2 separate regions of the Homo sapiens genome follow, and region 2 is linked to region 1. The links come from fine-mapping of genetic effects on gene expression. A gene starts in region 1. The other region holds a variant in brackets. All regions are shown on one strand. Distances are from middle to middle.

The links. PIP is the estimated chance that this variant, and not a neighbour inherited with it, causes the effect.
Region 2: its variant is fine-mapped to the expression of PXYLP1 in whole blood (TOPMed, PIP 0.99).

Annotation. Positions count from the first base shown.
Region 1 is chr3:141,228,887-141,234,255 of GRCh38, forward strand. It overlaps PXYLP1 (2-phosphoxylose phosphatase 1), which reads left to right and starts at 2,939. Exons shown (of 6, transcript NM_001037172.3): 1 at 2,939-3,025. RefSeq lists a silencer at 2,678-3,057.
Region 2 is chr3:141,279,312-141,284,680 of GRCh38, forward strand. PXYLP1 (2-phosphoxylose phosphatase 1) reads left to right here. Exons shown (of 6, transcript NM_001037172.3): 4 at 67-193. Among named protein-coding and RNA genes, the nearest start is that of PXYLP1, 50 kb to the left of the region's middle. The variant C/T (reference allele first, on the strand shown) is at 2,887.

The DNA of each region.
Region 1 (5,369 bases):
TTTGGAAAGGACAAAGGAGCAGGCTGGGAATAAGAGGGGAGACAAAAGTTATTGAGCATACTGCATGCACTTTTCATTTCTACAGTTTACAGTTACCAAAGAGGATGGCTTGCTCATTTATCATATGAATAACGGTGATGATAGTTGCTATTTTACAGGAACTAATGTGTGAGGTCCTATGCTAGAGGCTTATACTAGTCAAGACTCTCTTGGTTGCAAGTGACAGAGAAAGCCAATTCTAATTTGCTTGGGGGAAAATGGGGTATTTACTGGAACACGTACTTGAAAAATCCAGTGGTATGTGGGATTCAGGCACAGCAGAAACCTGCCTATGACATCCATTCTGTTGTGAAGGTAAACAAAAAAGAAAGAAAGAAAGAAACCTGCCTATCTCACCACTCTGCTTTCCTCTGTCAGCTGCAGTCTCTGGCACAGTCTCCCCAGGTGCTGGCCAGATGGTCCCCAGCTGTGTCAGGCTGCCATCCTGCCTCTTCAGCAACCACGGAGGAAAGAGATTTAGTGGGAGTAATGGTCTTGAGATGCTTCCTCATATCTATTTTCCCTGTAGGAAGCTTTTCTTTTTTCTTCCCTATAGCCCCTTTCTCCATTAAGGCTCGGTGGGTACCACTCAGAACCCAGAGTCCACAGGGGGAGGAGATGCCTCCTCTAGAATGGAAGGTAGCATAGACATCCTCAGGGAATCGGGAAGGTGAGGTAAAGAAACAGGATGTGAGTCTAGGGAGTGTATGATGCCTGATTCCATGAGGGCCTGAGGCTATCCCTATACCAAGTGTGGACCTAGGGAAGGGGGTGGTACAAAGACACAGATCTCAGATAGGTTAAGGAGGAAGCTGAAAGCAGAAAGGGCCTGTGTCCTATCTCCAGGCTGAGACTCTGCCCCCACAGTATGCCCTGCGCTGTCAAGCAAAGCGCTGGTGTGGCAAATTTTGCAGAGAAATGGCTAGAGATGGTGCCCTGAGTTACCTTTAGTCCCCTTGTGACAGAGAAGGGATCCAAGAGTGCCTACATGCTCCCTGCTGAGGGTGATAGTGTGTCCACGAGTGAACCCACCTGCCATGGAGTCACAGAGGCTGAGAGCACAGCATGGACATGTGGCCCAATCCTGCAAACAAAGCCAGGTCCAAGGCTAGTTGCAATGGCTGGCAGAGAAGCTGATTTTCTGCTAGAACTAGAGCTGTGAGGCTGTGAGCCTGGATCTGCCAGGGTCTCATGTGCGCATGAAAGCGTAGTTCATGTGGAAGACAGCAAAACTGAGACGGGGAGTCCCTGAGACCCTGGGACTAAAGCCAGGCCTGAAGCAGACAGGCTCTTCATGTACACAGCGGATCAACCCTTTGTGATTTAAGTTAGTGTGAATTGGGTTGTCTTTTACAGCAGAAAGCACCTTGACTAACCCATGTAGAGAAGAGGGTGACAGTGTGAGCTAAGCAGTAGAGCCTGCAATCCGTGAGAGGACAATCAGAAGGGGCAGAGGAGACATTGTTGGGCGGGCTGCGGTGGGCTTCTGTGGGGGCCAGGTGGGAGAGTTGGGGGTGATGCCAAAGGGGACAGTGAAAAGATTTTGTGCTCATGGATTGGGAGAGGCTGTCAGTATTCAGGGCAGAAAAAAGGCCCGGGATAGCGCTGCATCGGGGGAATACCAGAGGCGGACAGGCAGCAAAGTCCGGTACTGACGAGCCATTAAGGCACCTGATGAAGAAGGCATGACAGGTGGCTGAGAGAATGGCGAGACCACGGGGATAAATGGAGTTGGGAGCTTGGAAGAGGTAAAATTTAGTGCCAGACGTGGTAACTTGAGGAGGAAAGTTCTAAGAAAAAAACCGGAGGGTAGGGGGAAATATGGCTAACATATCTGAGCCAAGTGTGTGGATTTGAGAGCCATCAATCAAGGAGAGAAAGCAGAAGTCAAGGGATGAGATCCTCCCAAAGGTGCACCTCAAAGGTATATAGTAGCAAATTCGAATCCGTATCTATTTTGCCTGAGGCTAGTTGTGCTAGGACACACAGGGTTGCTGTAGACCTCGAGCTGACAGCAAAGACCTCTCTGATAATCGCTGTTGGTCGTTTCATCTCCCACAGAGAAATCTGGTGGAAATCTCCACCAGCTGGAACCTAACATTTGCAATAAATGACCCACAAATACTGATCAAACCAAATACAACCGTTCGCCTATCAGATGTCTAACGGGGCGTTACAGGCAGCCCTCAAGTGCTCTGAGGATCTTCAGCAGCGGCTCCAAGGAAGCCGCGGGCCGGGAGCAGGTGGGAAGGGCGACTGCGCGGGGCCACGACCTCCCCGGGTCTCTGCAGACCGTTGGAGACGGAGCAGCAGCGAGGACTAGAGCAACACAAGGCCGGATGTGTTCTGAGCCGGAAGAGGAGTGTGGGATAGGCCGAAAGGGGTGGGGGGTGGGGGGTGACAGTTTGGGTCTACGTGGCAGCAGGCGCACCCCAGACGCGCGCGCCCACCCGGCGATAGCATCAGCGGCGCCAGGGCAGGCACATGGCCCCAAAGCACCCACACTAGGGCCCGGGCCGGCCAGGGCTGTGTTCCTGGGCCTTGGCGCGCCTCCGCGCAGTCCCTGATCGCAGGTCAGGAGTTGTGAGGCACGCGAGAGCCCTGCGCGTCTGTGGTCGTGGTCCCTGCGCGCTCGGCTTGTCCGTGCCCGTGGCTTTGCACGCCGAGGGCTCTGCAGACTGACCAGTCTCTCCGGGCTGTGCTGGGCCTCCCAGAGGCAGTGTCCTCTCAGCAACCCCGCGCGGTCGCCCCCGCCCAGCCGCACCGCAACACCGCCTCCGGGGCGGAGCTCCAGGGCTCCTGGTGCAGGGCCGGCCGAACTGAGACGGGGCGCGGCGGGGTCGGCAGGGGGCGCTGCCGGGCCCCGCGAGCTCCCCGGTGGCGGGTGCGCGCCGCCCTCGCCTCCCCTCGCGCCGGGAGGAGCTGGCGGCGAGCGCCGAGCCGGGCGCGCAGCGACGGAGCTGGGGCCGGCCTGGGACCATGGGCGGTGAGTGCGGCGCGGGCCTGGGCCGGGGCGGTTGCCGTTGGGGCCGAGCAGCGCAGAGGTTCTAGGCGGGTGGGCGTCCAGGGTCCGAGGTTGGGAGACTGAGGGGGTCCCCCTAACTCGCCAGTGGGAGAGGGGCGGGAAGGCTGGGGGCGCTTCGAAGCGTCGGGTCCGAATCCCGCGACTAAGCCTCCTCCTTTATCCCCGCGCTCGCCCCTGAGCCTAGGACTTGCGCCCTCTTTCCTGCCACTCCCCCCGTGCGCCCGGTGTCCCAGCCCCGGCGCCCGCCCCATAGCCCCCTTCTCCCAGAGCTGGCGCCGTCTCACGCCCGCTGCGAACCCCCGGCTCTGTCTCCAAGCCCTCGCCCCCCGCAGCCCCGCACTCTCCCGCGGAGCCCGCCTCCACCTCGCCCCCGCCCTTCCAGCCCTCTCCCGCACGGCCCCCGCACTCCCGCCGCTGGATTCCAGCCGAGATTCAAGCTCCCGGGATCCCCCTTCCCGGGCGGTCCTGAGCCGGCTAGTCTCCAGGTAAGGAGGCGGCCGCAACTTCGCGGCCTTTCCCGGAGACGGGGCTGGCTCCTCTTGGCAGCCACCTGCAGCCTGACGCCTCCGGGAGTCCCGGGCCTGGCCACGGGGCCGCCCGAGCGCAGGTTAACATTCCTGGATGCGCAGGTTAGGACCGTGTGGTGTAGACCCACGACGTTGCTTTTGCTGGTGAACTTGCCTATGTCCTGATCTTTTAAATAAGCTGGGTTTGTCACACACACACACACAGAGAGAGAGAGAATGGATTTGCTTAGGGTAGGTTGCCTGCTTTGCAGCCGCAGCTGCCTTTTAAATTGTACCTGTGGATGGTAAAGGATTCACGGTGCAGGACGTGGAGCCATATTTTCCCGCTTCGGCTGTGAGTTCAGCGATTGCGAGGGGGCTCTGTAGTGAGTGAGGTTATCACCGCCTGGCTAGCCAGTGTCTTTGTGGAAAGGCAAGGATCCTTTGTAAGCATTCAACAAGTAAAATCAGGAGAGATGGGGAATCAGATCGAGCTGTGAATGGGGAAGTGTAGGGGGGTGGATGGGGGATCGGAGAGTGCTCCACAAATGGAGCCGTTTGTTGATATTTGCAGAAGGCCCGTGGGTGTGAAGCTGGCAGTGCGGAGCCCACCCTTTCAAACGGGATGCGACTGCGGTCGGGCTTGGCAGTAACTTACCCTCCTCAGAGGTGTTGGTGCCCAATCGGGACATCTGTGGGAAGGGGATTTATAGCAGATGGATCAAAAGGCCTCGGGCGCGGTGGCTCACGCCTGTAATCCCAGCACTTTGGGAGGCCGAGGCGGGCGGATCACCAGAGGTCGGGAGTTCGAGACTAGCCTGACCAACATAAAAACCCCGTCTCTACTAAAAATACAAAATTAGCCAGGCGTGGTGGTGCATACCTGTAATCCCAGCTACTCAGGAGGCTGAGACAGGAGAATCGCTTGCACCTGGGAGGCAGAGGTTGCAGTGAGCTGAGATTGCGCCATTGCACTCCAGCTTGGGCAATAAGAGCAAAACCCTGTCAAAAAAAAAAAAAAAAAAAAAACCCTCGTGGTCCCTGGAGAGAGGTGAAGATGCACGGGACAGCCTGAAAGCCAGTGTATGAATCTGCCCCATCCCTTCTCCTGGCTTTCATTAAGTCTTGGATTAAATTAATTGCTTATCTCAGAGAAAGGATGTGTAGGGGGAACTTCTCTGTTAGGGATTGGCTCCTGGCCAGCCCATCCTCACTGATGCCTTGGGAGGCTGCGTTTGGGCACCAGGAACAGCGTGGGCCACCTGGCCTTTGGAGCACAGCACTCCGAGTGTTTGTGGAACTGCAGTATCTGTAACTCTTTTTTCTATTGATCAGCTTGAATAGTTAGCTCAATATTACTTCACTATTGATTAGATAAGTAGCCCAAGGACATACTGGGGCTCAGTAGGGTCTCTCTGTCCAGAAATTCCCGTGGGCTTCTCCTTGGCCCTCCCTACACCGCTCTGTGATGAGTCGCTGTCAGATGCCCCACTGTGCAGGAGCATCTTCAGGGATGGGTGGAAGGAACCACCTCTGTGGCCCCAGGTCCCTGCCTGGTCCCCCCTGTCTACCACATAGGGGTACTCAGTGTTTGTGAGGAAAAAAAATGGATGCCCCGGTGAATTAGTCTGAGTTCACAACCAATGTTTTCTACACTTTGCTACACTGTTCAAAATGTTACCCTTAAATTCAACAGTTTTTTTTTTTTAATGTGTCATATCACCAGAGACAAACTCATTTTTGTGTGTGTTTGGAGCAGTGAGTGCAATCTACGGATCAGTCTCTGATGGTGGGTCGTT
Region 2 (5,369 bases), 50 kb after region 1:
TGGCCCCCTTCTAAAAGGATTGACACCTATTGAGTGATAACCAGACAATGTGCTTCTCTCGCGCAGGTCATGCCCCGCATCATTTTAAGCTGGTCTCAGTGCATGTGTTCATTCGCCACGGAGACAGGTACCCACTGTATGTCATTCCCAAAACAAAGCGACCAGAAATTGACTGCACTCTGGTGGCTAACAGGTAAATTGCACTTTTTCTAAAAGTCATTTTCAAGTGTCTGTTATATCCTGTAGGATAGAGAATGACAGGACCTACACTTGGTGAACCATACTGTTTGCAGGAGCCTGAGCTCAGAGCAGTCCTACATGTGAGTGCCATTATACAGTTGAAAAGATGGAGGCCCACAGAGGCGGGGACACCTGTTTGAAGCAACACAGCAGATATACTGAGCCCAGGCCAGTCTGAGGCTCACCCTCCCACCCTGATGTTTTTCACTTTAATAAACAGTTGGGACACAGTACAGTGAGCACTGAGTTAAGAGTCCTCCGCCCCAGCTCACCTGCTCCATTCAGAGCAGCGGGCAAGCCCCTTAGTGTCCTCTGAGCCTCAGCCTCCTACCTCTGAAACGGGGATCACAAGGCTCCCCATGCAAAGTTGGGGCAAAGAGTAAGTGAGATGACACAGACAAATGCACGTTAGCAATTGCAGAGCCATATAAATGTAAGAATTATTTCACCCTTCTAATTTTTCACTGGAGTAGAGGCAGCCTGTTCTTGGTTGAAAGCCCTTAGGATGAAAAATAATTGAACAGAGTGTGGAAATTGTATGGAAATGGCATGGCTCTAAAATTAGAGGCATAGTTAGCAATAAAATATTGGGCTAGACCTCAGCAAATGTGTCTGGAGGCACATAACATTCTAGCAGAGTTTAGTGAATGAGGTCAGGAGATGAAGTGCTCAGTGGGGAAGACGTTATTTTGATGGAATGCTTCTGGGATGCCAGCCTGCCCCGGGAGGGCGAGCCTGGTGGAGCCATGGATTACCTCACTACAGCCAGGGCTGTTCTTTAAAAGTGACACTTTGTAGCTCGTCTTGCAGGGCCCCTGTCACAGTGATGCCAGGACCCTCTAATGGGGCCATTTTTGGCGCTCCCATTTGAGAGGTTCAGTTCCTAGGGACCAGTTGGCCTGGCTGCCTCTGCCCTCATTTTCCTTTGCCTAGTTTTATTTTATTGAACATTCTGTATTTTTAGAAGCCACTTTAAATCCTTTGTGTGAAGAGGGTGGAGTATGCATAGTTACTTAATGTCATTTAATTAATTTAATCTTTAAAAACAGTAATAGTTGACTCATCATTATAAACAGGTACTTAAGAGTAAGAGTGAGCAGGAACCCCGGTGAAGGGGACCCTCTCTAGGCTGCTGACTCCCCCAGGACTGTGGGATCTGGGTCACGAGCAATACCTGCTGTCTTCCCAGGTGCTACTTCAGCTTTAAAAATTACTAATGTTGTGATCTCCTAAAAGGTGGTGTGCCCTGGAGCATGCCCATTATTCTAGTCTAGTGAAACGGAATACTGTGGCCAGCAGGCAGGGTGCAGTGAGCTGAACCAAGCACTAGCTGGCGGTCCACAAGTTTGTTGCCCCAGGGTTTCCATCCACGATGCCACACCCTGTGACTCTCAAAGCCTTTGTAGTAGAAGCTGCCTCTTTGTGAATGCCATGTGCTTTATAAGGAAGGTGCTATTTTAACCCTCATAGTATTACATTTAGCCAGCATTAAGGTTATTAGTTATTTATATGCCATATTTAGTAAATGCTTTTTTGCATTCATAAATATGAATTAAATATGCTTTTCTACATCCAAGGAGGAGAAAACATCCACTTTGATCAGCATTTATTGCACAAATTTTAGTTTTATGCTTCTATCATGTGCCAGGTACCAGAAGGCAGTACACAAGCAGGCACCTACATGAAGTGAAGGGGCCAGCCCTGTGATGGTCCGGGGACAGAGCGTTCCCTATGGAGTAAGCAGCAAGTGCAGGGGGCCCGAGGCTGAAAGAACTGGGCAGGTGTGAGCCACAATAAGACCAGGGTATGGCTGGGCTGGAGCAGTGATGGAGGGAGTAGGCTTCTGAGGAGTCGAAGAAGAAAGGCCGCTTGTTGGGGCTGCCTCTGCCCTCAGGGAGCTCAGCACATTTACAGAGACAGGCCCGGTGCCCAGGACACGGCAGCCCTCAGTGAATAGCTGGCACAGGTGGCAGCAGTGGTGGCAGCATTAGAGAAAGAAGAGGAAGAAATGGAAGAAGAGCAAGAAGTAGAAATGGAAGTAGTTTGGGTGCCATATTTGGGGGCATGAGCCAGAAGAGGGGCAGCCTGACCCCACCTGGGGCAGGGAGGGGACATGGGGTGGCAGATCAGGGAAGGCCACACAGAGAAAGGGACCAGAAAGGTGTGCAGGAGCAAGTCAGGCAGAAGCTGGTGCTGAATGGCCCCTTGGGTGGTGAGACCAACCCATGCAGTGTGAGGTGGTGGACAGCTTGGCACATTGGGGCCCTCAAAGTTAGTTTCACAGGCTTGAGCAGAAAGTTAGTTTCACAGGCTCAAGCGTGGAGTGGAAAACTGGGTAGGAACTAGGTTATCTGAGGCTTCGATACCCAGCAAGGGAGTATGTCCAGGCATGAAGGCAGTGAGAGAGCCGGGCAGTGAAAGGGATGAAAAGATGAAGGTCTCTGACAGCCATAGTGTGGAAGATGGATTGGAAGCTGGTGGCAGCTAGTGGTGTTATTATTAGGGTAGTGATCCAGAGGAGAGACTTCACTCAGAATCAGAATCCACATCCTTAAAGTGCCCCACAAGGCCTGAGTGCCCTTCCTCCACCCCTAACCCGCCTGACCTTGCCCTCCACTCTCCTCGTGCTCACTCACTGCGCTTCAG[C/T]CACAATGCTCCTAGCTCTTCCTTCCACATTCAGGCACTGTATGCTGCCTCAGGGCCTTTGCACAAACTGGTTTCTGTCTCTAGAAGGCTCTTCCCACAGAAAGCTTTATGGCCAGTCCTCTTACCTCCTTTAAGTCTTTGCTCAAATGTCACCTTCTCAATAAAACCTACTCAGAACACTCCAGTTAAAATGACAAGGTGCTCCTCCTTCCACCCTGGTCTCCCACAGCCCCCTTAGCCTGCTCTTCTCTTTGCCACAGCATCTGTTACTTTCTAACCCAGACAAACACACACACACACACACACACACACACACAGAGTGTTCATTGTGTATTGTCTGCTTCCCCAGGCTAGAATATAACCTCCCTAAGGGCAGAGATTTTTATTTGTTTTTGTTCACTGCTGCTGCATTCCAAGTGCTTAGGACAGTGACTGACATATGAGTGGTGGGGTGTGATTAAATGTTTGTTGAATGAATAAATGATGGCAGCTGAAACTCAGAAGTGGCAGCAGAGATGGAGAGAGTGAGTGGGTCTTAGAGAAGGTTACAAGGTGGGATCAATAGGACTTGGTGGCAGGTTGGACAGGGGTATGAAAGGCAGGCCCGATGGGGCCCAGGTTTCTGACTGGGTGTCTGGCTGGTGGTGGTACCCCTCCCTGGAATTAGAGAACACAGAAGGGAGGTATGGGGGGAAGTTAGTACAGGCATTGGTGCTACATTTGAGCTATCATGAAACATTCAAGAGACAGTTTCTAGTCAGTAATAGGCTGTATAATTTTTTTTTTTTGAGACAGAGTCTCGCTCTGTCACTAGGCTGGAGTGCAATGGCATGAACTTGGCTCGTTGCAACCTCTGCCTCCCAGGTTCAAGCGATTCTCCTGCCTCAGCCTCCCGAGTAGCTGGGACTACAGGCACGCGCCACCATGCCCAGCTAATTTTTGTATTTTTTTTTTTTTTTATTTTTTAGTAGAGATGGGGTTTCACCATGTTGGCCAGGATGGTCTTGATCTCTTGACCTCATGATCAGCCCACCTCAGCCTCCCAAAGTGCTGGGATTACAGGTGTGAGCCACCCTGCCTGGCCTAGTCTGTATAATTTTGCAGCTCAGGGGCACTGGCTTGCTGGGAAAAAGAGGTTTAGTTGAGAATCTTCAGCATGTTGATGGCATTTGAAGCTGTGGGCTTATATTACAGACAGAACCTGAGGAGTGAGGGATGGGCCAAAACCAGAGTCCTGGGAAGCACCAGCATGTGGTACTCAGAGAGAAAAAGGATTTCAAAAGGGGCCAGGGATGTTGCAAATGGGGAAAAGTCAGGAGAGCAATGTTATGAGAGCTAAGGAAAGCAGGGCAATGCATTACATCAAGTAAGACCAAAAGGTCCAGAAAGCTAAAAACAAAGAAAAGTACACTGGGCTTATCTTTTCATAATCTCATGTTATTAATATGTAAGATGATAAATTCTTTAATTGGCATGAACTTTAAAAATCTAATGTGATTCCAGTTTCCAGCTATGTATGCTCTTTTGGATTGTGTTTTCTGGTAACAGTGTCACTGGTCGTCTGCCTCTTCTGCTTGCCTTAACATTCTGTGCAGAACTCAGTCATTGCTGAGATTTTAAATAAACAATAAATGTTCTCATGGGTGTGTGGATTAGCCTTGGGGTTCAGCCTCAAACTTTGTGGCATAAATAGATGTGAATAATGCATATAAAAGTGAAGATAAGGACTCCAAAGTGAATGACTTGAAGGCTTAAGATAGTAACACTTTTGATTATTTCAGTTTTCATTATGAAAGCAGATTTTCAATGAGCCCACAATAATATGAGTTTTTCCTAAAGAAAAATTTATTTTCATGGATATAATTATGTCTGCATTAGTCAGGGTACACCTATTTTGTAAGTTTATTTTGTAGCACAGGGACTCATGAATGCATTACCTTAAATAACAAGGAAGTTTAGCTCTTCCTCATGTGAAGGTCTGAAATGTGTGTTCCAGATTGTGCTAGTCAGCTCCACCTGGTCATTCAGGGCCCCAGGTTTCTTCCAGGTTGTTGTTTCTACCATCCCCTGGGGATGGCTACATGGTTGAACCCTGGTTGCTGCCATGCCTAAATAATGGCTGGAAGGAAGGAAGATAATGTGAACCGGGCATACACATGATCAGAAAGCCTGAACCCAGAAGTGGCATACATCTTTCCGTTCTGTTGGCGAATGCGGCTTTACCTCATTTCAGGACCTCAGAAATAGGATCTAACCAAGTTCTTAAGAAGAGAATAGATTTTAGTGTACGACTAGTACACTAGTCTCATCCACACTAGCCTTTAGTTTTAATACAGTCATCCATAGAGGATTGGTTCCAGGATCCTCCTTGGATACCAGAATCTGAGATGCTCAAGTCCCTTATGTAAAATGGTGTTGTATTTACACAGAACCTGCGCACATTCTCCCATGTACTTTACATCATCTCTAGATTACTTATAACG